Homo sapiens: one gene and its partners. The protein of the gene in region 2 interacts with the protein of the main gene of each other region in a biochemical or structural test. Each region holds a gene or a part of one and is shown on either strand. Other genes may lie near its edges.

What was found.
Region 1: the proteins of KLF3 (region 2) and NFIA form a complex in vitro, tested with the Homo sapiens proteins (one study listed by BioGRID).
Region 3: the proteins of KLF3 (region 2) and NFIB form a complex in vitro, tested with the Homo sapiens proteins (one study listed by BioGRID).
Region 4: the proteins of KLF3 (region 2) and NFIC form a complex in vitro, tested with the Homo sapiens proteins (one study listed by BioGRID).

The regions. Positions count from the first base shown.
Region 1 is NC_000001.11:61,456,543-61,463,295, reverse strand, and holds the end of NFIA (nuclear factor 1 A-type), read right to left. Parts: 3' UTR 508-6,753; downstream 1-507.
Region 2 is NC_000004.12:38,688,174-38,695,198, reverse strand, and holds part of KLF3 (Krueppel-like factor 3), read right to left. Parts: exon of another isoform or gene 7,013-7,025; intron 6,615-7,012; coding exon 6,128-6,614; intron 5,471-6,127; coding exon 5,320-5,470; intron 726-5,319; exon of another isoform or gene 647-725; intron 454-646; coding exon 293-453; exon of another isoform or gene 292-292; intron 1-291. UniProt on the Homo sapiens protein: Binds to the CACCC box of erythroid cell-expressed genes. May play a role in hematopoiesis.
Region 3 is NC_000009.12:14,311,136-14,318,944, forward strand, and holds the start of NFIB (nuclear factor 1 B-type), read right to left. Parts: upstream 3,007-7,809; 5' UTR 2,377-3,006; coding exon 2,347-2,376; intron 1-2,346.
Region 4 is NC_000019.10:3,369,561-3,376,585, reverse strand, and holds part of NFIC (nuclear factor 1 C-type), read right to left. Parts: intron 1-7,025.

The DNA of each region.
Region 1 (6,753 bases), on a different chromosome or scaffold from region 2:
TCTTCTCAGAGGTCTGGCCACTGGCCATGTGCTGTCCCCACCTTTGTGGTGACCACCTCCCTCAGAAAAGACCCAAATATCAGCTGTGTGGTGTCCCTCCTTGAGTGCCTAGGTTCTGGTAAGCCCACCTTTCCCTTCGGTTTCCCCAGCTCCAGGGGTAGTGGCTGTATCCTGCAGTTACTAATACCTAGGCAACTTTACAGCCCCTGTTGGAAAACCCATTGAATCTTATTCCTGATTCCCGATTGGGCCCCAACTGATACAATCTATACAGCACTCAGAACAATATCAGGCACACAGTAAACACTATGTGAGTGTCAAATCCTGTATTTGTCCAAGTAGGTGAAAAAAGTAACACTGCCCATCAGAACACAGCCAAGGATGCTATGTGCCTGACAAACCCCATGGTGCATAAAGACCATCTTCTGTGGGAGCCTCCAGTCCACACCCGTGACTGTCACTCAATCACCCAGGCATGCTGTAAAGCAAATGATGACACAGCTTCCATAGCATTAGCAATTTTTTATTTTTCCTTTTTTGTTGCATAGGAAATGCAGTACTTGCTTCCAGTAATTGTATTGTAATGTGAGAAGGTGGTAGCACTAATGGTTGAATACAAGAGTTAAACTAATCCACACCAGCTCAAAAAACCTGTGGAGATTTAGTTGAATAAGAATGGACGCCCACAGTGATTCTCAACCAATTACAAATTTTCACAGAACACAGTAAAACTAAAAGGGTAACTATGAGAGTCAATACAAGTATACTAGAGGCACAGGGGGCCCGGCTCATAAAAACAGATTTCAGACCAAGTTATTAACACGGGGGGTGTTTCGTTTCATAACAGATCTCTTACCATCACTGGAAGTGTTCCATCCCCTCCCCCTACAATTTGAAATGGAAAACAGAGGTATTCCGAGTGGACAGATTTCCATGTGTGGTGGGAAAAGTCCCCAGTGAATTTTGCTCTGGTGAGAGGGCAGGGCTAAGGGTGGGGCGGGGGATCAGGGATTTGCCTTTGAGAGTCTTCCTAAAGGACCTCCTAGAACCTGATAAAGCTCCTAGTCTAGGTCTAGTTAGTATCTCAGTGGCGAGGCTACCAAATGCCTTCGCAGTGCAGAGACGATGGTCTGAGACCAGGGAGAAGGCACCGAGCCGTTAGTTCTCTCAAGCCTCTGTCCCAGCGGAGCTAGCGGCCTTATGACCTTCGGTTGCAATGTCAAAAGAAAAAAAAACAAACAAAAAAAAAAGCCAAAAAAAAAAAAAAAAAACCCAAAAAGGCTAACTTACAGACTATTATCAAAAAATAAAAATTTAAAAAATAAGAACAACACAAATAAGTCAAAGGAAAAATAAAAGCTTTTTTCATTTTGAGAAGTTGAGTATAAAAACAGCAGGAAAAATGGCCCAATACATTGGACACTATTTGTCCTTGAAACCACTGCAGAGATACAAAAGTTCACATTGTATGACCTGGTGGGTGTCTTCCACCATGAAGGTGCTCTGGTTAGATTAGAGGTAGCACTTCCACTGTATGCTCTTGTGGTTCAGACACATTTTGGGAAAGTTTATTTTTCTGAATCAAATAGGCGAATGCATCTACATGTAAAACTCAGGATACCAGGCACACAGATGAGGTCCCACCCCCACACACTGTCTCCCTGTTCTCACGACCAGCTGTGGGTGGTCCCCCTTATCTTTCTAAGCATTTCCGCTATCTGCTCCCCACATACCATCCCCCTAATCTGGGAAAGGTAACTCTTTGGGGAATAAAAGGCAGATGGGTGCTGGTTTAGGGAAAAAAATGAGATGAAATTTATTTAATTTGGGAAGCAAGTAATTTCAAATTTAGACCAAAAAAAGTATATTAAAAAAATCCCGTGTTAATAGCAAACTTCTTTTTCTTATGAATCGGGCCCAAAGTTTGTACAGAGTTTTATTTTTGAAGAAAATATTGCAACTGTGCATGAAACTAAATAGCCATGTGATTTCTTACATTTTTTTTCTTATTTTTCCTTTTAATATGAGGAGGTCTGGTGTGAAGACAGATCAAGCATGGGTACCTGGCTTGAACATTGTCCATTAAGAAAATGTATCAGTCTCCGCATAGCATCAGTCAAGGGTCAAGGAAAATGCCCCTGACTTGCAAATGTTCTCAGAGTGTCTTCGCAGCACAGTTCTTGAAATTCAAATAGTCGTTTTGAGACAAAAATCTCGCCAGGTACTGATTTCTGAAATCAAACACCCATGCTTGTCCCCTAGGAAAAAGAAAACAAAAAACAAAAACAAAAACAAAACACGAGTAATACTGAATTTAAGTAAATGTATACCTCCAAAATACTGAAAACAGCCGAAATCAAGAAAAGACAGAATTTGCGTTCTCAGTGAAATACCTTTAAACCTAGCTGACAAGAACCAAGTCGGAAAAAAAGACTAACATAACTTTGAGTAATATTCATACAGTTCACTAAGCATTATGGAATCGCATGCATTAATATTGTACGGTTATTTTACATCACCTATACCAGAAGGTCCTGACTGACAGACAGCGAAGGCTACCGGTGTAGAAAAATCTTACTTCAGAAGAGCAATATAATACAGATTTCACAGGCACTACATTTTAATATATCAGGTATTATGCTGGTTTTCTTATAATTCTTTCTGTCCTAAAGCTGGCATTATAACAATGACCAAAAAGGCAAGGATTGAAGTAAACGGAAAGTAGATACCAAAGTTGATATAGTTTTTTTCTTCAGATAGATTAGTGCATAGTTCTCATGCAGATAAACACTGCTATGCATTTACACTGTTGGAAAGCAGAGTGAATTGAGCCCAAGTTGTCACATTTGTGTAAATCATTTTGTCAGCCTATAATAGCACCATGTAATGGATTTGCATTAAACATTAAATTGATTTCAAAATTGGTGACACAGTATTCACTACAGTTAAGTGCTATGGAATAGCTTCAATGTTACCTGCTATATATCAAAGCAATTTTCATCCCACTGCTTTTTTATTGGAAAAAATAAAAGGAAAACATACACGACGCTAATTAGACGAATGCACAGCCTTGGACGTGGAGAAGGCAGAGCGGGTTTACTGTCAAACAGTAAATACATGCATTGACTTCAAGACAGAATTGGCCTTGGAAGCCTTTTTGAATGAAAGCTGAGCCGGTGGGCAGTGCAGCTTTCTGAGACTGTCTTTGGACAGATCTCGAAGGGTGGGTTTTGAGGTGCCACTGAAGCTCTCCTTACATTACTATGGTGGTTGTGTTTTAGATTTGTTCTATGGAGGCCTGCTACCAGAAATAAAAAAGAAAAGAAAGAATGAAGACAAGAAAGAAAACAGAAGCAAACAAAAAGAGAGAGAGAGAGAGAGACTCCACCACCACTATGGACAAAGATATTTCTAGAGACATGATGCAAAGTACATTAAATGACATTCTTAGAATCCCTTTCCCCTAAAAAACAAAAAAAATTCATAGAAAAAAAAGGTTTTTCCTTATCCAGGTTTTGTCAGTCCTTTATGCCACTGTAACTACAGGATTCAAAGCTTATGGGGCTAAGGGCTTGGAAAAAATCAAAGACAAACTTTTGGAGATGGGTCTTGCATATTCCTGTGGGCTGACTGAACACCGTGGCTCGGGGAAGTCTGGGTTCCTTCACACTTTGACTGTCAGAAAATGAAGATCACAAGCTCTGGGAGGTGTAACCTTGTCGGCCTGCCTAGAGCCCACACCTGGCGGCGGCAGGGACGGGCCTGGGGAGCGGGCTGACCACACGTAACTGTCATGCCAGGGTGTGAAGACACAGAACATCAGTTCAAACCTCAGAGGAAAGAGAAGGCTCTCTAGCATGGAGAGCGTGGCATTACTGGGAGGCCCTCTGCGCACGAATGATCAGAAAAGGGGCGTTTTGCTGGCAGGGACAAGGGCCAGAAGAAAAAGTCTACAGAAAAATGCTAAGAGTTAGTGTTCGTGCCTCTGACTTCAGTTCCCAAAGAAAAAACAAACAAACAAACAAACAAAAAACACAGAAATTTGAGGGACTCATCTTTGCCCAATCTTGTTAATGCCATTTGATGGGAAAGAAAAAATTCAAATGTGTCTCAGAGTCAAGGGCTGGGCCTTCAAATGCTGATAGCTCTCAGTCTGTCTGTCTACACACCCCAGGTAGCAAAGTCTTCCTCAAGCATCTTCACTATGCTTTTAAGCTAAAAAGCAAAAACACTGGCAACTGTTGGTGTTTCTTTTTTCCTGCTTGATCACAACTGAATAGTTTCCTGCTGCTTTCTGGACAATGAAACATGAACAAAAATGTAACTTCGTGTATTTAATACTTAACCCCTGTTCGTTATCACCCTAGACTGCCTCCCTAATGTTTTAAAGCCTTTAAAACATTTTTTCCTGCAAATCTGTTCAGAGTTCCCTAATTTTAGCTTCATCAAACTTAATACAACAAAATACCTTCAAAAATACAGCATACCTGTAACGTCCATTTACAATGGTTTTTCAGTAGACCTATACTTCTCAAGCATAGGAATATGCTATACCATTGAGAGAAAAAAATAATTGTATTTAAATACTTACAAAAAAAAAAAAAAAAAGGAAACAGGAAAGTTTTAAACTTAAATCCAGTTCCCAAAGGGGGGGTAAAAAGAAAGAAAAGCAATTCTATGAACGCTGCCTTTATAATGAACGATCAGAAATTTTACTAGGCTAATTTGACAGAAATTTTTCCTCATTTAAACAACATTACAAAAGTCCTGCATTATAAAATAGGGTAGAATAAATCAGTGTAATCAATAAAACTATACAACAATACAAATTACATATCTTCTGAGCGGGCAGTTTATTCTCTCTCTTTGCAGTCATGACTACAACATGCTCACTAAAAACAACTAAAACTGCCCAAACTATTGCTTAGTTTGTTTTGTTTAAAAAAGGGTGCAATTTTATTGTATATACAACCAATTTACTGGTAATACCTTGGCTTATTGCAAGGTTCTGACAAAATGTTTGTCTAGGCTTTTTTCCCTTCACTGTGAAGCACTGAAAGCTGCTATTTTTTCTTTTTTTTTTTCTTTTTTTCCTTTTTTTCATTTTTTAGTGCACATATGTCATAATAAAGTAATGCCCAGCTAAGTGCTATAGGGGAAGGCAAAGTATGCTGGCTGGCTATAGGAAGTGACACCATACACTGACAATCACACCATACAACAGCGCCAAACGACTATTCAACCACTTATCAGACACATATGAAAATCCAAAATGTTTTATTTTATTTTTTTTTCCTTAAATAGAGATAACCAGTAAACAATTTTCAGAACTTGGAAGTTTAAAAACGTGCATATAAAAATGGGCATTATATACTTTTTATTGAATGTGGATTGACTGCAGTCTGCTAAGAAAAATGGGGTGTGGGAGCTGAAGAAAAAGGAAGTTGTCTTTTTTTTTTTTAAGGCTTGCTTGTGAAAGGAACAGTTGTAAAAACAAAATTGCTTGAAGCAGGGTCAGCTTAGTGCTTCACAGTTTGACTGCTTCTCTAAGAGGAGCCCTTCCTGCGCACGTGCATTCAAAAATCACAAAAAAGTACAAAGACAAACACCTAAAACACACTGCGTCAAGTGCAGCACCGACTTTGGTCAAATAAAAAAAAATAAAAGAAAAATTAATAATTGCTAAGCTTTTCTACATGATATAAGCAGGTATTGCATATTTTCATATATCTGGGGGAAAATAAAGGAAGACTCCAAATAAATTGTAAAATGCAGCAACATCCAAAATACTGATATTCTAAGCATCTACAGATCTCAGAATAGCACTGCCACCGACCGTACAGGACAATAAAGACTACTCCTATCTGCGGAACAACTAGCTTTCTATTTAGTTCTAGATGTTGAAACTGACGATGGCTGACATAAAAGTCACATTTACAAAAAGTGTCTCCAAATGCTTGACTAGGGAAAAACCCCTTTCAATAGAGGAGCATGTGCAACAATTCCACAAATAATCGCTATCCAGGGCAAGGCACATTGATATGGAATTTTTGTTTTCGTGCAAATTAAGGAAAAAAAACAAAACAAAACAACATTGTTTCGGGGAGAAAGATGAGGAGCAAAGTGTCTTCCCAAGAATTTCAGTTACTTGATTGTATAGGACAGTAGTAGAACCCTTCTGAAGGGCTGAAAAACATAGTTTAAAGGCAAGTGCCTAGAGTAGGGATTACAATATTGTGTCTTAATGCACTCTACTTTATCCTACATTAACTATATAAAAATTAGTTACTAACACTAGAACATGCAGAGACTTTCTCTGATCAGCAGGGCTTGCCAACCAGAACGTATATATATGTATAGTATAGGAAACCTTCTTGAAGTCGCATGGGAAGCAAAGGGGTGCTTCGCTGTCTGGTAGAAAAATCACTTGCACTTTTTTTTGTTTTTGTTTCTGTGGTTTTTTGTGTTTTTTTTTTGTTTTTGTTTTTTGTTTTTTTTTTCATAAGATACAGGACGTTTGGGGGTGCAAACTTTTTTTTTTTTCCCTAACAAGTACCCTTGATCTGAATGGGCACCAGCATTTGTGTCAGTATTGGTTTCATCATTATTATTATTATTATTATTACTATTATTATTTCCCATAGCCCAGTTCAGGGATGCAAAGGTCTTTAAAACTTCTGGACAATCTCTGGTACAATGAGGTGTCTGATAACTGATAAATCCTATGATGCCAGATAGGTGTAAAATTTTTTA
Region 2 (7,025 bases):
CATTCCAGCGGCGAAGGCTCCAACCCTTTCTCCCTCCTTTGCTAGAGAGCACAGAACTGCAAGTGATTGTGAGTGGCCTTGTTTTGGGGATTACTTTGAATCTATTCTAACTTATTACAAAGGCAAATCATTAGCAATATCTTCATTCTGCACAACTAATCTGGAGAAGACACATCTGGAGATGACTGTGGTGACTTTCAAGATGCCTGAAAACTTTGATCGTAACAACCTTTGCATTCCATTCTAATACTTCTTAAGAAGAAAGATGAAGTGGGTCTGGTGTTTCTATTACCTGTGTGTGTTCTTCTGTGTGCTTTCAAGTGGGAGCTTTTAGTGTACACTTTGTTGCATCCATCATAATCACATCTGTGTATCCTCCGCTTCCTTTGAGTATCCGGGGATTCCACAGGTAAAGGTCTCTTCCCAGGCTGCACGATGACCGAAGGGTGATTCCTGTGAAAGCCAAGGTTACAGGCCAAATGTTGAGAGCACGCTCTTCCTTTTTCATCAGTCTACTAAAAGCATTAACAACACTGGGCAAAAACAAACAAACAAAAAATCCCAACAAAATAAACAAAAAGAAATTAGCTGATCAACCCAAGAAGCACTGCTATATTCATTCAACAAACATTGAGTGAGCACCTACCATGAGCCAGGCACTGTGCTTGGCACCGGGACACAAAGATGAATAAAAACAGGGTTCCTGCCCTCGAGGAGCTCACACTCTAGGGGGAGACAGACATGGAGATAAGTAATGACAGTAAGAAGGGTTAAGTGCTATGCTAGAGGCAGGCACCAAGTGCTGGGGAGGCTCTTTTCCTCAGTCAACTTCTGCCTACTTATAGAATCTTGTGGTTCTAGGCAATGCTGAACACTATATTTTTTCACAGGCTGCTCTGATTTTCATTATTGTTGGCTAGGGAAAAATGGAAAAGATCAAACTCCTAAGTCTCAGGAAACCACATTGTAGGGTATATCTACGTTTTTATCCTTTATGTAATTGGCATTTAATTGGAGTCCCTTAGAGACTGCCAATTCATGTGCAATTTTCAAATGCCAGCTCTTCCAAAAAACAACAAAAAAGTTGGCATTGCTGTCTTCACAAACTCAAACCTCCACTGTCACTGTGATTCCTGTATGAGGGAGAATTTCAATGTAGTGTTGTGGTCACCCATGATGCTGGCTCACGTGGTGCCGGCTCCCCCATGGCATGCCTGACGTTCTCCCTACCTTCCTGATTTCTCTCTCATTCCTGAGTTTGCACCTTCCCTGGGTGGATTAGAAACCAAATCCTGTTAAAAATCTTACAATCTAAGCTTTTTTTCAGCAAGAAGGTGGTGGAGAGAAAAGGGAGATGGAGGAAGAGCTGGGAAAAGTCTGTTAAGTTCCTCAGGCTTCCCCTGCTGATTAATGTAAGTAATTATAATGTTCTAATCTGCTCATTCACTTTCCTAATGACTAATTACTTGATATATCACAAGTGTATGTCATTGGCCTCTAACTGTAATGAAAGACTTCTTTCTCTTTCATATTTGAATCTATAGCTCCTAAAATGTTCCATATAATACAGGAATATTTTGCCTAAGTGTTTGAGGAGAAAAAAGGTGTGTGAAAAGGAAAAAAAGAATTTGATGAGAGTAAACACTCTAACTCGTGAGCTTAAAAAAAGAATAAAAGAAATTTATCCATAAAAATCAAAAGGGAGTCTCTTGGTATAAAACTTGTCTTGGTAAATATTTGAATACACATCCCTTGTCAATCACTTTTTCAGGCATGCTAAGAAGTGACTAGAAAAAGAATAAAAGGTGTGTTTCTTAAGTGACCTTACTTCTCATGCTTTTTTTTTTTAAAAAAAACATTATTTATTTACTGCTCATGCTTTATTATGAGCAAAGGAAACTGTCAGTTTTGACTCTCACCTTCCTACTCTAATACCTGGAAGGGTGGTAGAGATGGATAAAATAGGCCAAGTTTAGATACATGGAAAAGTGAACATAAAGTAGTGAGGAGGGAGAAAAGAAAAATGACTTCAATTATATATATGTATATATATACACATATATATACACGTATATATATATGTATATATATGTACATATATATATACGTGTATATATATGTGTATATATATACATATATATATATGTGCAAACAGCAGAGAACACAGCAAAGTGAGAGGTTTACAGACAGAGTTTTTATAAGGCTGAATTATTCATTTAAAATCCTTCAATAGAAAGAAAAAAGTTCAGTTTATTTTTAACTTTCAGCTTTAATGCCATCTAATGAAAATATTTCATTTCCATTAAAAGAAATTCAGGAAATAAAGTGCTGGGGTAGAAATTTAATTATTAACTATAAAACTTTTATATGTCTTTGGGATACTGGGAGACTATCTTTTTCAGATAACTTTAGAAATCTCTCCCAATTATTGGATTTTATGGGTTGGGAATCTAATCGTTTCTGTGCAGTAATTCTGACTGCCCTTTCCAGTTGTTTATTTTACACATAAAGGTGCACCGAAAGGCTGTGGGCTCCAGTTACAAATCCAGCTCTGTCACTGACAGTCTCTGTGATCCTGGGCCAAGATCTCGCCCTCTCTGTGTCTTAGTTTCCTCTCTGTAAACTGGGGATGATAATAATGTTATCTCAGAAGGTTATATCTCGGAACAATGTCTGTTCCCAAGATAAAGCTATAAATGGTAGCCATGAATATTTTCAGGTTCAAAATAGTCTATTTGTAACTTTGTACCCTATGGTTGTTTAATTTCATGAGTTTTTTGAGGATGTCCCCAAACCAGGATATCTCTGCTTGAGCTGTGTCCCTCAAACATTCTGAGCACAGTTAACCTGCCGCATCTCTGAAGACGCTGATGTTGGTTCAGGCCAAGGCTAGATGAAGAGTCTTGGGATCTCACACTTTTTGGTCTCCACTCCCATTTTCAAAGAGATGGTTTGGGATTATTATAACCAAGAAGTTACAGAGCTAATACATATAAGATATCTTGTCCACTGTTTTGAGCTGAGACAGCCCCTCTTAAGTTTGCTATAATTCGCATACACAACTCAATAGGGAAATCTGATCCTTATGCTTTTTGTTCTAAATATAGTTTTGTATATTTAGAACAAAGAAATCTTTTTGTAAATCTGTAACAAATAGAATTTGATGTACCTTTGAGTGCCTTTATAAATAATCCTAAAGTTGCCACACCACAATCGAGCAAATGGATTTCAAAGCTGTACTTTTAAGTCTGCCTCTGGAAAGGAAGCGTTTCTTAAGGCAAATATTATTGGGGCTGCCTCACTGCAGTGGTACTGGGTGCCTAGTTTCAAGTGATTCTTTCCTGGCTAGCTGGTTTCCTACGTGGGCTGCTACTGGGCATACTCCAAGACGTTACTTAATCACATCTGTGAGAACATTACTTAAAGAGTACATGTCCCAGCTGTGGCTAATCTGTTGCGTTTTTTTGAGAAGCAGAATGTATTCTTAGGTCAGCATTAAAATAAGCATATTACTCATTAATCATTAAAAGCCACTGAGCTTGAGATCATCAAAAGAATATTACTTAAAATAAAAGTATTTTCTTTTGAGCAGCATTCAGAGCACAGAATATTGCCTTCAAATCTTCTTATGTAATGTTTTACGTTGCAACTCATAATAACCCAGACTTTGGAATAACACTTGTCCAGTCAACGGATCCCTCCCTTGGAGGCAGTTGGTTTTATTTAGTTTTATAGCATCTCTTTCATCACCCATGCAGGAACAACTATAAGTGCAGGCCACGTTGCTAGTTACCTTGCCAGAAACATCCCTCAACATAAAAAAAGAGTTAATTCCACCTCTAAGATGTGTCCATTTTGCCTAGTCATTTTTTCCTTTCACTTGAGTGCATGAGCAGATGCAATGGGTTGGATATGACAAGATGGCAGGAAAAGCCCTGATTCGGAAGCAGGAGATCAAGCCCAAGGCCCCTCAGTTGTTAGCAGGGTGAATATTGGCGAGTTATCTAATGTCTCAGGTAATCACTTTGCCTTTTGCTCCGACTCCCACAGGCTTGTTGTGGAGGAATAAAATAATTCCTTTGAAAACACCTGGGAAGGTTTTTTTTGAGGTAAGAGGGCACTATGCAATTGTGAGGAATAATGAAATATAACTCCATCAGAGACTCTCTCCCTACCTGCTGATGAAGTCGGCTAAGAGTTATTCTCTTCTTCATCTATTGGGGAGCATATGACAACCCAAACCAAAAATGACTATGATTGGGTGCAGTGGACAATTAATCCATGAGCTACTATGAAGGTACCTACCCAAGCTGAATGTGGATACAACTAGGATATATTTGAAGTTACCATAAAATAGTTATTCTAAAATCAGAGAATTCACATTCTGCTGTAGAGTTAATTGTGAGAGGGAGCGGGGTACAGGGGGTAGAGAAAATAAAGGAGAAAGGTGGGTAGAACATTTATTCAAGTTGGAGGAAAATGATGCAGGAGGACAATGGAAGGGACCCTGTGGAGGTAATCGTTGCCTTCGTACTAGGAAGCTGGCTGCTGAATCCAATGCTGAAGCACCATAACACAAGACAATCACAACTACAATCAATAATGAAAACAGAAATGGGGCAGCAAGATTAAGTGACTAGTCCAAGATCATACATATGGCAGAGAGCAGAGGTGGGATCCTTGTTGGACCCGAAAACCATCTTCTTAGCAACTACAAACCCAGCCTTCAGTGTAATCACTGGTGGAGGTCAAGGTTATCTACAGCAGGATCCCACAAATGAGGTTACTGAAGCTGTGTGTGGCAACTACCACATTATACCATGTTAGACCTACAAGAAACCACCATTCAGGTGCTTGGATGCTGACCAACACTGCACAGCCTTCCTACTGGATAGCAATTCTACAGGATACTATACACTCTGTAAGGACTATGTGTGTCCACATGAAAACTTTACATGATCCACAGAACACCAAGTTTAATCTATACAAGGATTCTCATAATGGAAAAACTAAGTATACATAGCCTGGAAGAATGGAAAAAAAACAAAAATAATTCATGTGGTAAGGTGCAAAATCATGGATGACTGATTCCATGAAAACTTGATGTAACTTTTGTCATAACGTTGTCAGTGTAACAGCATATTGTTTTTGGAGAGATTCTCCCATCTTGACCAGTGGTACTGGACCAGTGGCGGCCACAGATCACAAGCCGTTCCTGGTCATCCACACCACATCACACGTGTGAAATCTTGTGCTTCTGCTCCAGGTTCCAAGATGCACACTACTATGCAAATGCTGGGTAGACCTAAATATACTTACTCTTGCAACAATGCTTGCGGGGGGGACACTGAGTTCATTAAGGGGGGTGACATTTCTTCAGGATAATAATCTGTCCTCTGTGGTTCGATCCCAGGTTCTATTTTAATTTTTTTCTGTGATATAGGCTTCTCATATGATTCAATTACAGGTACTAAAAAATAAAAATAGAAAAGTCACTTCACGTACAGTTTACCAATTTCAGCTTTTAAAAGCTTACTGCATAGCTCCTACCTACAACACAGATATGACAGGTTTATTTGCCTTTGGCAGACTATAGCAGGAACAAATCTGTGGGAGATTCTCACCTCTCCTGACCATTATTTTGCCAGTAAGCAGCAAATATAGGGACCTAGATTATAAGACACCAGCCCTGAAATGATTCGTTCTTATAATTCTGGATTATTTCCTTTCAACCCCTTAGTCCTCTATGACCAGCTGATAAACAAGGTAGCTTTTGATCACCATTAGTTTTCACCACAATCAAAAAGGATTTATTAAATGCCTTTTGTACCTAGAACCATGTTGGTATTCAAGAAAGCAACATAAAGTCAAGATTCTTTCTATCCCCAAGTTGACCATTACATAGTGAAAGTAATCATGTCATGGTATCAAACAGACAGCCTGATTCTTGGGATCTCTTCCAGTATCAACACTTTGGGGGGGCGGGGGAAGGAAATGCCTTAGGCAGATGAGTATTTCCTTTGAAGAGTTCAACAGCTCTTGCCCCCATGCTTCCTCACCCACCCCATCTGGTGAAGCGCCAGTACGCTAAGCAAGTGCAGCAGCATGGAGCAGTGGCGGAATTTACCTTGCATGCTACTACTGGAATTTTCCATCTCCTCCGATAAGGAGACCATGAGAGGCTGCTGGAGGTGACTTGTGTACATAAAGGGGACGGGCTGCACCACCACCGGCTGGATGACGGGCAGGATCCCCGGGCTCCGTATTCCATGCCGCGAGAGGGCAGCTGCCATCACTGGTGGCATGGACAGCGGCACGCCGAAGGGCTGCACGCCTGGAGAAGGGGGTGAGTATTTTTTTATCGGTGGGCTGGAAGAAGGCATGCTCAACCCAGGCGAGGCTCTCCGGTGTGAGGACGGGAACTTCAGAGAGGAGGGCGAATTCCCAGCCGAAGGGGGTGAACTCCGCTTGTTCACCGTGAGGTCCACTGGCTCCATCTGTATTCCGTGCGACAGACCTTCTGGGGTCTGAAAGAACTTCTCAGGCAATGGTGTGGAGTAGATGACCCCATACTTGTTAGGCTTCATGGATTCCATGTAATTAGATGGGTATGACTATTAGAAAAGAAAAGGAAAACGTGTCAACAGCCAAATAAGTCCATTTACTTGAAACATGAATTAAGAAAAATATGCTAACAAGGCACTTAACAATTACATGGGCTTTACAAAATAGTTTAGATTTCGATATATATGTGACCTTAAAAAAATGCTCAAAGAGGTGGTCTCAACATTAAAAATGCTATGAGAGGCGGTCTCAAAAATATTAAAACTAAGATCAATGTGGTCACTACTGCAGATGAAAAATCTGAAATTTAATCCTAAGATGATTCCTGTGTCAAACATTAAGGCCGATACCTGGCAAAATTCTAAGACAGGTGATAGCACAGGCTTGGGGGCCATTATCATTAGGAGTCAGAGGTGGGCATCACAAGAACCAGTCAAGCCAAACCAACCTGGTTGCTTTTC
Region 3 (7,809 bases), on a different chromosome or scaffold from region 2:
TGATATGCTGATTTTGTAGCATACTATTTTGCTAAACATAACATTTAATGGTAGGTCCTTTTAAATTAAGATTTTTTTTCTAAAACCTAGATACCTTATTGCAACAATTGAGATACTTTTAAAAGTTTATAACCAATTAAGAATGATACTCTATTTTGCAATTTACATGTCCTGAGACATGTTTTTCTACAGCTACTAGGCTCTTGTGATACAAAACTACTGATCTGATACAAAAGTGACACTATTAATGTGGCCTCACTTTTATAACACCTATATTACCTGCAAAGTCACATGGAGCTTAGTGAAGTGAAAATTCTTAAGCTGAAATTCCTTCCCTGGTGTAGGCCTTGTTTTAATACATAAGCCTAGATTTATATTATTAAAATAGTAGAGAATATTAGTCATCACAAGTTATTGTTGTTAAGTGTGTATCTCTGAATACTAATGTGATAGCTGAATGATTATGCTGTATATGATCCCAACATTCCCTGTCTCAATGCTGCAATATTATCTTTAACTTACACAAATTAAGATAAAACTAGTGACTTTTCAATACATATTTGGAGGATACTAAAAATGCAATGTAATTGCTAGCAATGTTTCTGAAAAGCTGATGTTAGAAATATAGAGAAATGCACAATTATTCAATCTTTTACAGGTGAGAATAAGTGATGCTATACTCTGTAAGTGAAAATCTTGCTTTGATTTGTTTTATTTGATCACGGTGTAAAAATAATATCAAGTTAACACAGCTTATCAGAAAGAGAAAAATATATCCAGCCGATGGGTAATATTAATGGTAACTTTTACAAGTAAAGGCAATTCGTTATACCTGAAACAGTTTCATCATATTTATTGGCTATTATCATTCATGGCTTTTAAAATACAAATAGCTCAGCAACTCATTTTTCCAGTTTTGTTAAATTAAAGTGCGTGTTTACTTGCTGAAAATAGCCATATCTAAGTTAATCATACTCAGATGCCAAACAAAATATAAACAATAAAAAATGTGTCAGCCAAAAAGCTACAGGACTGTATCCAATCACTGAATAAGCCTTATCATTGTTTTCATCTTCATTCACAATTTATGAATGCCTCAGTCCTTTTGAATCACAATGGCTTCTAATTGTCATACAATTGAAATCTTAATTATTTGTCCATTATAAAAATGCATCATCGTGATATTAGATGTTTTTAAAATTTTAACACGCCCAAGACTGGCTGACACTTCTTTATATGACTAGTTTTCATGGCAATGTCAAAGAAAATAGTTATCAATTACCAATGGTGACACATCTTCCGAAAAGCTGAAATAAGCTGCCCCATACCTTTAGAGGTTTAAAATACTGCCTCAAATAACAGTTCTGGGCTAAGATATTTTAGTTACTTTGTCAGTTGTTAGTTCCCTGGGCAGCGATGAAAACTGCCCCCAGGTAAGTCTGTTGGGTCTCGCCGCTTTTCTATTTGACCGTCTGGCTTAAAGTGATACAAATCGTGTTTCTAAAAAGTATAAAACCAGTGTTTTATTTCATAACATTATTCCTAAGGTCTTAGGACAATTCTCAAAGTCGAAAAAAATGACCTTACTTCTACCAGCATTACTTAAAATGCCTTACGAGCTACGCCCAAATATCGTCAAATGAACAGGTTTCCACAAAAGGAACACGTTCTAAAAACTCCTTAACAATCACCAAGACCAACTAACTCGTGTCAACGTAAATACTGCCTTTGTGGTGCGGTCACTAGAAACCCCAAAGTGCAGCAGGTCACTATGGACCAGGGTTTCAGATCCCCAAATAAAGCAAAGGAATGGGTCCCCGGACCACAACCTCCGACTCGATTCGTCGCCCGCCCACCGCCTGCAGCGCAGTCCAGCGGCGCCCACACAGACTCGTGCTACAGTCCCCTCGCCCAAGTTCACTGGCTGTTTTTAAAAGCTTAGTCCCCCGTAAAGTCCTCCAAAGCCCGAGTCCACCTCAACGCGCGAGCTGCTGAGAGGGGCTACGGGCACCCCGGGCGGGGATGCCGCACCACAACGGGCACTTGAGGGGCCGCACGGGGCCTCGCACTTACAGGTCCCGGCCCTGCCCACCCCCCGGCGGCCTTGCCCGGCCCAGCGCCCGCGCTCCGTGCCCAGGGCGCGGGGCTGGGCGCTCGCAGTGGCCGTGGCGAGGGGCCGCTCCCGGCTCCCACGCCGCCCCGCGACGCCCGCTGCAACTCCGGGCCACTTCTCCAAGGGACGGGGATGTGCGGAGGTTAACTCAAGCCGCTAATTGTCCGCAACAAAACAAAACAAAGGCATTTCGGGCCAGAGAGAAAGCTCGAGAAAGCGACCGAGACATGTACCTGAGTGAGACAGATGGGAGAATACATCATGACTTCGCCTTAAAACGCACTTTCCGGGAGATGCCCAAGAAAATCTTCGAGAAGCAAGAATTTCATCTATTCATTTTACAGTCATCTGAGCCCCGCGATGCGATCAATCAGGACGGGGCTCTGCGCTGGATCACCGCAACTTCACAACAAACCCAGTCCTCCTTAAATAGCCAAAGATTCAAGTTCACTCGGCGTGCTAGATTTCCAGGGGTGAAATCCAATCTACACTTTTAACCCTCTTGCAGTCCGAGCGCGCTGGCCGTGCTTGCCGAGGCCGCCGCCGCCGCCGGTGTTGGCTGCTTTTCGCCTGGGTTTGGGGATTTGTTTTCTATTTTGCAGTTGTTGTTGTTGTTGGGGTGTAGGGGGTGCGCGAAGGTTCGGTGTGGGTTGGATTGGGGTGGTGGTTGGTGGTAAAATGCTTTTTCAAAAAAGGCGGGGAGGGGGGCGCGGGAGGGCGCAGGAGGGCGAGCGGGCGGGCGGGAGGGAGAGCGGGGAGAATGTGTCACCGCGCTGGGAAAGTTCAAGGTTACAGCCCCAAGCACTGCGGCAGGATCCCGGAGTGGTGATCGCAGGCGAAACTTTGCCGCGAGCCGACCATGTGTGTGCGCGAGGGGCAGCGTGAGCGAGTGCGCGCGGGTGGCGGGGCGCGCGCGGGAGAGGGCCGGGGTGGGGGCGGGGTGGGATGGGGGAGAAGGGAGAGGCCGGGGTGAGGGAGGGGGCGCGAGCGCTGATCTCTGGGGCGGAAGAGGCTCGCGGCGCGTGGTCCCCGGCAGCAGCAGCCGCCGCCGCCCGCGCCGGGTCTTCGGCGCCCGGCCGCCCGCCCGCCCGCCTCGCCCCGCGTCTGACCCGGCCGAGCGTGGAGGCTGCTGTTGCCGCCGCTGCCCAGAGCCCAGGGGTATCAAAACGATCTCCTGAAAAATTCCAAACGATAAATCCCGCTCTCCCGCTCGGCTCCAAACTCCTCTCTTTTCTGCTCTAGGCTCTTTTTTTTCCCTCCCTCTCTTGCTTTCTTTCGTTGCAAAACTTGGAAGTTGAAAAATTCACCGGTTCCACCCTCTGGACCCCGCTCGAGCTCTCTCCAAATCAGACTTAAGGATTGTTTTATTATTTAATTACACAATCATCGCTTTACTCCTCCTCCTGCAAACGCGCATTCCTTTTGCACCAGCCTCTCCACACCCCCCGCCCCCCCACCTTCCTCCTCCTCCTCCTTCTCCTTCTCTCCCCCCACCTCTCCCTCATTTGTTAAAGGTATCCTACCGGTGCTACAGAACCATGACTTTTTTTTTTTTTCCAAAATAGCTCTTCTTTCCGCTGCCCTCCCCACACCAGCACACACATACACACCCCCGAAAACCCGCCCTGGAAGAGGTATTTCGGTGCTCGCTGCGGACTCTTTTAAGCCGCGGGAACATCCGAGTGGGAGAAGCACCGAAACCGTCTGAGCCCGAGAAAGGAACGAGTGGAAAATTCCCTCACACCCAGGCCGCCCCCAGGCCGGGGCTGGGGCGCGGACACTCGCACCCGGGGCGGGCTCAGTCCGCGGAGCCTGCGGCTGCCGGGAAAAGGGGGAGGCCGAGCAGGCGGGGACCTGAGCGAACTTGGGCTCAAGTAGTTGGGGCGCGCCGGCGTGGACCAGGGGGGTGCGGCGCCCAGCCCCCGACGGCCCCGCCCGGAGCCCGGGTTCGCGGATAGGGAGGGGGTGCGGGTTCGTCCCGGGTCTGCCCACCAGGGGCCCGCACCCGAGGCAGTCGCGGCGCGCGGCGCTTCGCCGCGGTTTGCCGCCCTCCCCGGGGGTGCCCCGTGCACGTGGCCTCGCTCTGAGCGGGAGGACCGGGCCGAGCCGCCGCCGCCGCCTCTTGCTCCCTCCACCTCCTCCCCGCGCCCGGCTTCGCTCTCCTCCTCCTCCTCCTGCAGCCCCGCTGGCTGGCTCCCAATCCCCACCCCCCGGGGCCCGGGGCGCCGGCGGAAAGCGTCTCCCTACCCGCCCGGGTGCAGGCGGGGCGGGGCCGCGGCGCGCCCGGGGCTGCGGGGCGGGCCGGCGGGCGCGCGCGCGCCGCTGCAGCCCTCCAGAGGCTGCGGGCCCTGAGCCGCTCGGCGCCCGCGCCGGCTCCCCACCGCGGCGCTGCCCCGCCCCCACCCCGTCGCCCGTGCAGGCTCCGAGTGAATGAACTTGATTCCAGGGATTTTGAAGAAGGCGGTTCGCCTTGCACCCTTTCTGCACCCCCCGCCCACATACACACACCGCCCCCCAAATCCAGTTTTCTGCTTGGGGTGGATGGGGACGAGGGGGAAGCAAAGGCCTCCCAGACAATGGAGGGAGGAAAAGTGAGCGCCTGGGGCTCCGAGTCTACCTAGCTGGGGGATCCGGGGGGCGCTGGGGCTACCGGGTCCTCGCGGGCCCATCCCCAGGGCGGGGCCGCCCCGCTTCCACGGGTACTGCTGGGGCGTTTCGAGGCTCGCCCCCGATTCCCCGGTCCTCTTTCCACCGCTTCCCAGCTCGTGATCTGTCCCCTCAACTTTAGCCCCTCTCACTCCCTCTGGTTTCTGTCCACCGTCCCCTCTTCCCTCCCCCAGCGGACCTGGAGGAACCAGTGACTTTTTCCTTCACCAAGTGGGAGTTATCCACATCAAGCATTTCACAACGACACATCAAGAAAAGTAGGCAGGTTCAAGTCAACCATGAAATGGTCACTTTTTAACCCCGTCCTGTCCTCATTAGGGAAATGCTCAAACACAGTCCGTTTTCAAAGAGCGCTCTTAATGAGGCGAGCTTGCCAAGTTTACCAGCTGCAGCCCCCGTAAACCCAGAGCCCAAAGAAGAAAGGCGCTGGGGGGTGGGGAGTTCGGGAGGCCGGGGACGGGGGCTGCTGGGACTAGGAAGACAGGTAAAGTCGGGGAGATCGCGCGGACCCCTGCGAGTTAACCCTTTCGGCCACACGCCCTGGGAGCGGCCTCCCTGCGGTCCCCGCCCCTGCCCCGGCAAATCCTGGAGTCAGCGTTCTGACAACGTTAATTTCCTTTGTGCGGGTCATTTCTTCTTTTTGAAAAGCTGGGATAAAGTTGGCAGTCTTTATGGATGAAAGAAATGAGGTGACAGGGTTAATCCAAGTAAATACTCATTTCTCTCAGAAATTTTAGGCAACCTCATCTTAGATTAAACACACACAGACACACACACACAGAGAAACCACCAGCACGAAAGCATCACTTTGTATTGCACATTACACTGCATCCCCTTTCTCACCCTCACCAGATTCTGAGGGGAGGGGGTGGGGAAGCTCTACTGATAATACCAGCTTTAACTACTGCAGTTTCCCTTTGAACAAATATTCAATTTAACTGGAGTTAATTTACCATAAAAGACATTCCCCTTGGCAGGAATGCACTAATATCCTTGAACACACCTCTTTGAATGCCTGGACTCTCATAGAAGCCATTATTTCGGGGTCTCTTTAAAAATCGAGCGCCCATCTCTCCTTCTCTCCCTCCCTCCCTTCTTCCCTCCCTCCTCACCACACCACCCCCAGTGAAATCCTGGCACCCAGAGAGCACTCCTTTCAGCCTGAGAGCCCAGAACCAGCCGTTGTCCCCTGGCAAAAAGAGGCCCAGGGCTGAGCCCTGGGCAAGTGTCTCCCGACATCGCTACCCCTCCTCCCTTTATTAGTTTCCCTTTCCCAACAGAAACCATTTCCTTCTGCCACCAAAACTAGGTTGCATCCAAAAGTTTTTCACAAGCTTAAAAAAGAAAAACGAAAAATTGACAAGTATTACACAGAAGAGCCCACAAAAGCTTCAGCAACACCAAGGGCGAAGAAGCAGCGTCAGATCCAGGTAAGACCCCAGAGAAGTGAAGACGTCTGGGGCCTCCCAGGCCCATCACTTAGGGGTTCAAATCTCTTTCAATTGCCCCACGTTTGAGGGTGCTTATGGCTGGTTGCACTTTGATGACCATAGAGGATGCTTGATAGTTTTTGGTTTTGATTTGTTTCCCAGAAAAAGGAAAATGAGATAGGAGTATGGTGAGGCGAGGAAAACCAAAAAGGAATGAAGAGTGAGCAACAGAGACTTCCTGAAAAAGAAGGTTTATGGGGGTGCTCAGTTTCTATGGCTTTGACTGTCTTCTCAGGCCTTGCAGCCATGTGGAGAATGGCTGACACCCCCCAAAACACTTCTTCTTGTCCAGCCAATGCCAAGGTCATTGCAGGCCTTCCCTGGAAGAACTCTAGGGAGTTGTTTGGAAAGAGGGACTGGTGGATTTCGGTGCATGGGATGCCTGGCTTCTCTTAACACAACACTTGTCCACCACCTTTGGTTTGAAAATCTCAATCTTTTAAATCCCAGGTAGAAGGAGGAACTGAGAAAGTGCCTGCATTGTATTCACTTTCCATTTTTTCTAGCACGTCTGTGTCGTGGTATTAAGAGTGGAAATATCTCTGAAAAGCTTCTGATAGTATCAAAATGGGCCAAACACTTCTTAAACTTTGGTACTTACCAATCCTAAACTCTTCATCTCTCCCTCCCACACTGAGAGGGTTAAAAGCACTGGTGTGACAGGCCACTTTCATTCACCCCAAAACCTGGCTGAGGAGGCAGAAAGAAGTGAATGATTCTCTCAGCAACAGGAAACTCTGTTATTTCAGTATTCTTAAAGATCTCCTCCCTAGATCTCCTTGCTGCCTTATAAGGGAAAAAAAAAAGTTTCCTTTCTAACTAACAGAAAGTTTATTGATTTCTAAATAGAATGCCAGTGCTTCAGCTCACTGGATTTTTCAAAACCCAGTTGTATATTTGAAATAAGCAACGCTACCACATTTGAGCCTTTCACTACGGATCTCCAGAGAGGAGCTTGACATCTCAAGTATCTAATATTGTTTTTCTTTTAACCTTTTCCTTCCTAAAGAAATTGCAGCGACAGGTTGCAAATCCTGGGCAGTTTCATGAAAGATTTCTTGGAACTTAACAAAGCTGTCATTTCCAATACACTCGATGCCTTTTTTTTTTTTTTTTTTTTTTTTTGGCTCTTGCATGTGGTTTGCAAGAAGGTTCAACTATTCTACACACCCTGGCTGCATCACCAATATCAATATTTAAAAACTAAATGCAAAAGAGACAGATGACCTCCTGACCCCAGAAAGCAGGCCTGCAAAACTGCAAGTATCTACTGCACCATGCCCTGGGATCTTTCCTTTTTCCAAATGAACCACAAAAATCATACATGTGTAGTCTGGAAAACACAAATTTATATCCACAAGGAGGAACACCAAAAATCCACTCATAAATGCATATATAAACAATCAAGAAGTATTGAAAGTGCCTGTACTTGATGAGAATTGCAAAATCAATTTTACCAGCTCAGGTAATCAAATTACCCAGCTCTTAAACTACTACTGAGTACTACTACTACTGTCTACTACTCTTAAACAAAAAACA
Region 4 (7,025 bases), on a different chromosome or scaffold from region 2:
ATTTTTATTTTTGCAGAGATGGAGTCTCACTCACTGTGTTGCCTTGGCCGGTCTCAAACTCCTGGGCTCAAGTGATCCTCCCACCTCGGCCTCCTAAGGCACTGGGATATTTTCTATTTTCTTTCCTTTTTTTTTTTTTTTTTTTTTTTTTTTTTTTGAGACAGTGTCTCACACTGTTGCCCAGGCTGGAGGGCGGTGGCATGATCTCAGCTCACTGCAACCTCCGCCTCCTGGGTTCAGGCGATTCTCATGTCTCAGCCTCCCGAGTAGCTGGGATTCCAGGTGCGCCACCATGCCCAGCTAATTTTTGTACTTTTAGTAGAGATGGGGGTCTTGCTATGTTGCCCAGGCTGGTCTCGAATTCCTGGGCTCAAGCGATCCTCCCGCCTCGGCCCCTCTAAGATGCTGGGGTATTTTCATTACTATGGACGCGATTGCTGCGATGATCATTTTGATTGCAGACAATCTTCCAGGAAGCAGGGAACAGCCTGAGGCCCCGCTCCGTGTTCTGTGGCATGGAAACTAAGGCTCAGAGAGGGGCGGAGACCTGGCTGAGGTCCCACAGGGTCTCAGGGCCGGTGTGAGGATAAGAATCAGGGCCCTGACCCCCTGGAAGGCCACGGGTCCCTTTCTCAGAACAGCCTGTTCTCTGTAAGATTGGGGTCTCAGGAAGGTAGGGAGACGTTGACCCTGGACTCCCACTGTGTGTGCCAGCGGATGTGGCTGGACTCGGTCCCATTTCCAGGCCGGGATGGGCAGAGCAGCTGCTGCCAGATCACCCTCCCTGCTCTGTGCTCCACGTCCCCTTGGGCCACCTCCGGCCGTGGGGTGCTTCGGGGGGAGGGGCAGGACATCAGATTTCACCTATTACTGAGGCTCTGAAAATAGCCTCCCCACCCAGTGAGACCAGAGTCAGCTTGTACCAGCGAAGCTCCCCCACCCCAATGTCCCCCAAAGCGTGAGTCACCGTAACAGCTGCGGCGGGGACCGGACCTCAGGGCCCTTTTCCGCTGCCCCCGCTTCCCCAGCCAACCTGCTAAGGCAAAGGGGAGGTGGAGGGGGCCCGGCCCAGGCCCTGTCCAATCTCGTCCCTGCCCCTGACTGGATGAGACCCAGAGATGGGGAGTGGTTTGTCCAGGGTCACACAGCCGGTCAGCAGAGCTGGGACCAGAGCCCAGATGGTCTGGCCAGGGAAGCCGGGCAGTGGGGGTGGTGGGGGGCACAGTGGGACGCGGCAGAGAGGACCCATAGAGGCGCAGGACCTGCCTGTGGAGGAGATGCCAGGCGGGCAGGAGGCCCGGACAATGTTGTCCAGCTGGGGCCGTGGCTGCCACCCAAGCTCTGGCGCTTACTGGGGCTGTGATAAGAGGCTGCTGGAAGGGACAGGGGAGGCATCCATGATGGGGGCAGGGATCACTGTCCCCCCAACTCCTTCTCTCCCCAACCCCCCTCTCTCTCTGAATTCCCCCTCCCCACTTCCCCTCTCCTCTTAATTCCTTTTCTCATCTGGCCCCTCGTAGATCTGAGTTCCCTTCCTCCTCCCTAACTGTCCCTCCCTTCTCTATGTTCCTCCCCTTCTCTGTGCCCTTTCCGGGGACAGGTGCCAGGGAGGCGGGCAGGGGTGGGGGCCCACGTCAGTGGTGACCCCGGCTAGTTACAGAGGCAGGAAGACAAACAGCTTGTAACTGGGTCATGGACCTGCTGCCCCATCCTCCCTTGTCCTCCCCAGGGGATCAGACCACGTGAGAGGCAGGGCCTGGTTGGCCGGTTGTCACTCTGTTTCTCCCACATGACCTGCAATAACCAGGGCCTCTTCCCCAGGGACCTCCTACTGCCCTCAGAGGCCCAACCGGCAAAAGAGATAACCAAGACAAGCTAGATGCTGAAAATCCTCCCAAACTCCTACACATCCCTCAACGCCCTATCTCTAGTGTCCCCTCCTTCAAGCAGCCTTTCCTCCTCAACCCAGGGTTTCCCAGATCTAGCCAGGACCATCCAGTTCTATCACCTCTCCCTCTCCAATCCTGAGGCCCAGAGTTGAGGCACCCACTGTCGGAGAAGGTGGCTGGGTGACAGTAAGGTCTATTTTCACCATCTGAATGGCTGGGGAACAGATCACCTCAGATAAGCCTCAGTCTCTCATTCTGTACAATGGGCAGAAAGGAATATTGCAGCCTGCTGGAGACAGGGGAGCTTGCCTGGTGACCTTGTTCCTTGCAAGGTGATGGGGAGAAGGGGAACAAGGCTAGGTCTTTCCTGGAAACCCCAGCTTAGCCCACTGGGACTTCCTGGCCAAAGAGAGCAGCAGCAGCTGGGAGAGACATCTGGACCCAAGACCTTGCTGAACGACCACGCCATGCACTGGGTGATGCCCTCACTCACCTCCCTGTGCTCCTCCCACCCTGAAAGTCCAGGCCAGCAAACCAGGACAAGAAACTCCAATTTCCAAACCAAAAGTTTCCAGGTAAAAGTGACTCAACAATCCTTCATGAGAATCTAGCTCATTACCTACTTAGCACTTATCCCAAATTCCTACGCATCCTTCAAAGCCTTAGTTCTAATGCCTTCTTCTCCGGGTCGGATGACTTGTCCATGGTCCCACGGACAACCCCAGGCCCATCCGGCACCAGCGTCAGGCTCTAACCTTGGGCCGCTCCTTCCCCTGGCTCAGAAAATCACAGCCTGTGGACATGTGAACGGCTCCCAGAGAGGGAAGATTCATTCTGTTGCTCAGCAAACATTTAGTGAGTGCCTGCTGCATGCCGGTCCCAGGTAGGGTGCCGAGGACTTGGCAGGGACCTGGGCTCGGCCCTCACCTGGATCCAGATCTGGGGCAGGGACGGATGGTTAAAATCAGCAAAATATGTAATAAAACGTCAAGTTGGGCAAAGTGCTCTGAAGAAATTTAAGAGTTTGAGGGACCAGAGAATCTCTGGGGTGGGGGGTGTTTTTTAGCTTGGGGGGGGGGTCCAGGAAGGTCTCTTGCAGGAGGAGACACCTGAACAAAGTCTTGAGAGATGGCACTCCAGGCCAGGAGCTTTCTGATGGAGAAATGGGTCATGCAAAGGCCCTGGGGCAGGACCGCACCTGGCGTGTTAGAGGAACAGCGAGGAGGCCCATGTGGCTGGAGCAGAATGAGCAAGGGGGAAAGAGAGAGGAGGGGAGGGTTGAGGAGGGGACAAGGACAGGCTGGGCAGGGCCTTGTGGGCCACAGTGAGGAATTTGGGTAAACTGAGTCCACAGGGTTCAAACTCTCTGCCAAGGCAGTGAGTCAGCAAAATGAACCCTGGGTCCCCTACTTCCCTCTGTGCCTTGATGTTCTGGGAGGACAATGAGGGCTGAGCCAGAGGGGCCAGGAGGTGGAGGAGAGAGGCAGGGAGCGAGGCTGTGCCTCTTACAGGCTGAGCGTTTGCTGAGCTATCACGTCTACTACGAAATAGGGGCCGGGCGCGGTGGCTCACACCTGTAATCCCAGCACTTTGGGAGGCCGAGGCGGGCGGATCACCTGAGGTCAGGAGTTCAAGACCAGCCTGGCCAACATGGTGAAACCCCATCTCTACTAAAAACACCAAAATTAGCCAGGTGCGGTGACACACACCTGCAATCCCATCTACTTGGGAAGCTGAGGCGGGAAAATCGCTTGAACCCGGGAGGCGGAGGTTGCAGTGAGCCCAGATTGTGCTACTGCACTCTAGTCTGGGCGACAGAGCGAGACTCTGTTTCAAAAAAAAAAAAAGTCTACTATGAAAGTGGGGACTATCATTGCACCCACTACCTCGAGGAGGAGACTGAGGCATGAAATCTTCCACCAAAGTCACACAGTCAGGGAGGAACTGAGCTGGGACTGGTCCCTGGGCCTCCTGGCACCCCCCCACCCCACTCCTGGGCCCCTTGAGCAAACAGTCTCGGGCCAGAGCGTCCAGTGACACCTGGTCTGCACCGTGCACACTCTCCGAGTCCCACGTGGTTCCCTTCCCCTTGTTTGATCCCCGAGGTCGGTCGCACACCACATCCTCAAGGAGTCCTGGTCACCTCGTTTCCTGCCCGTCCCCGACCCGGCCTAGACTGTCGGTCCCACAAGGGCACAGCTTTGATCTGTTAGCATCTCCAGCATCCAGACCACTGAAGCAATGCTCCCATCTTCTGCCTCTGGGACCCCCCTTATCCATGCACCCCCATGTGTAAGGAAGGCTGGTACCCACACAGGGCTGGTCAAACTCAGGGAGACCCTGGACAGGGCTGGGCAGGGAGAAAAGACTAACAGAGGCCGGGCACGGTGGCTCATGCCTGTAATCCCAGCACTTTGGGAGGCCGAGGCAGGTGGATCACCTGAGGTCAGGAGTTTGAGACCAGCCTGGCCAACATGGTGAAACCCCGTCTCTACTAAAAATACAAAAGTTAGCCAGGCGTGGTGGCACGTGCCTGTAATTCCAGCTACTTGGGAGGCTGAGGTAGGAGAATCGCGTGAACCCAGGAGGCGGAGGTTGCAGTGAGCTGAGATCACGCCACTGCACTCCAGCCTGGGCGACAGTGCAAGACTCCGAGAGAGAGAGAGAGAGAGAGAGAGAGAGAGAGAGAGAGAGAGAGGGAGAGAGAGGGAGAGAGAGAGAAAGAGAAGGAAAGAAGGAAGGAGGGAGGGAGGGAGGGAAGGAAGGAAGGAAGGAAGGAAGGAAGGAAGGAAGGAAGGAAGGAAGGAAGGAAGGAGAGAGAAAGAAAAAAGAAAGAAAAGAAAAACTAACAGAAATGCCACAGTAGAGAGGGGTCTGAGCCTGGGCCTTTCCAGGTCACCACTGTCCTTGTCACCCAGCCCAAAGCTGGGCTTACGCTGCGCAAATACACACAGAGGGAAGGGAGGGAAACTGGAAAATGCCTCTGGGGTGTTCAATGCAATTACTAGTTTAGCAACAACCATAAGCACAGCAGCACTTATTTGGCACCTACTGTATACCAGGTGTCGGACTAAGGTACATCGATGTCTCTGAGGAAAGTGCCATTATGTTTTTTATTTTATGTTGGCGGAGAAATGGAGGCTCGGGAAGACCAAAGTCCCGCCTCTCAACCAAAAACATTCATTCATTCATTCATTCATTCATTCATTCGTGCAACAGGTATTTATTGGGCACCTACTGAGTACCAAGCCCTGCACTGTGGACCTCAGAAATGTCCTGCCTCCCCGGAGGCTGCAGTGAGCCAAGATCGCACCGCTGCACTCCAGCCTGGGCGACAGAGCGAGACTCTACCTCAAAAAAAAAAAAAAAAAAAAATTGTGCTGCCTCCCTGAATCTGCAGCAGCCCTGAGGAAGTGGGGGTTTCTGCTGACTTCATTTCAGGGCAAGAAACGGTCCGGGGGTGGGGGCAGGTCACCCACCAGAGTCAGGAAAGAGGAGAATTAGTTTAGCAACAATCACAAGCACAGCAACACTTATTTGGCACCACTCTATAGCAGTTATTTGGCACCTTCTCTATACCAGGTACTATATTGGGTTTGGCACCTCCTGAGCAAGATTTTCAGGCAGATGTGAGGGGCACTCTAGGTCTGTGTGTTGGTGACCCCCATCAAGGCAGATCCGAGGCAGGCAGAGCTGTGTCCTCGTCCGTATGGGTGTCAGGGAGTGTGCACGCGTGTGCGCCCAGCGTGTGCTCATGGATGTGAACTGGTCAGGACTTGGGTGCCCGCACGCTGTGTGCTCAGGGCAGATGGGCACCCAGGTGAGGTCGGCGTGGACACAGGCAGGAGAGTGGGGGGCGGGCCGTGTCCGGGGCAGGAGGCCCAGGCAGCATTTCCCATCCATTTGGTGTGAGACAGGGAGGGAGGCCAGCTCAGAGAGACAGAGAGAGAGAAAGAAGAGGAGGAACAGAGAGAGAGGAAGGGAGGGAGAAAGAAAGAGACAGACAGAGAGAAAGAAGAGGAACAGAGAGGGAGGTAGGGAGGGAGAAAGAGAGAGAGAAGAGAGAAGGAGAGAGGGAGAGAAGGGAGACGGGGAGAGAGAGAGAAAGGAAGAGGGAAAGACGGAAAGGGAGACAGAGAAGGAGAGAGGGAGAGAGGAGGAGAGAGCGAGATGGGGGGAGAAAGGGAGGGAGACAGAGAGAGAGAGAGAGAGAGAGGAGAACGCTGACTCTGCCAGAATCCCAGCTTTGGTGATTTACAGGGCGCTTGGCCCTGGCGCGCAGAGGCACCTCCGCCGCAGAGAGGGGAGGGGGAGAAACAGAGAGAGATGCACAGAGAGACCCAGAGGGAGATACAGCGGGAGAGTGGTGGAGCCTTGTAGAGAGTGAATCAGAGGCCACCAGGCCCCGGGTGGGGGGCACACGGGGAGAGAGCGCCCACCTGCCCAAGCCGCCAGATGGAAAATGGCCTGAACCCCAGCTCTGCCAGCCCCACTGTGCCACCTCGGGCAGGCCCTGGCCCTCTCTGACTCTTAGCCCCTCTCCCGGCACTGAGGGGCTGCAGGCCCCCTGCTCCTGGTAGGCACCCCCCAAGCTCCCTCTAAGAACCTACACTGGGCCTGGGCCCTGCTGCCTCCCCCACCCCCACCTATCCCCAGGGCCCAGGAGATGCTTAAGGAAGATCTAGAAAATCCAACAAAGGTCGGGGGTCTGGGGTGGGAGGACAGCCTCTCCCAGCCTCGGTTACCCTGCTGGAGAAATGGCAGCAAAGCACATTGTGCTCCGAGAGGGCATGGGACGAACGAATGAAGGAAACAACGAACGAATGAGACAGGGACCCGGTGGCGGGATGGAGGTGGCTCGGGGAATCCGCCACGCTGCGGCCAAGAGGGACTTGGCCCCAAACCCGGAATAACTAACGTGGCGGTGGCGCCAGCGGGAGGGAGGCAGGGAGGGAGGCCCAGAGCAGGCGCGGGGAGGCCGGCCTTCCCGCCGGCAGGATTTATGGGAGCCATGGGCTCCACACAGTTCCTCTTAAGAGTAAAAGTGAAAAAGCGCTTGAGTCACCGCTGAGCCCGGCCCGGGGCTCCCAGAATGCCCCAGGGCCGCCAGCACCCACTCCCCACTCGGCGGGCCGG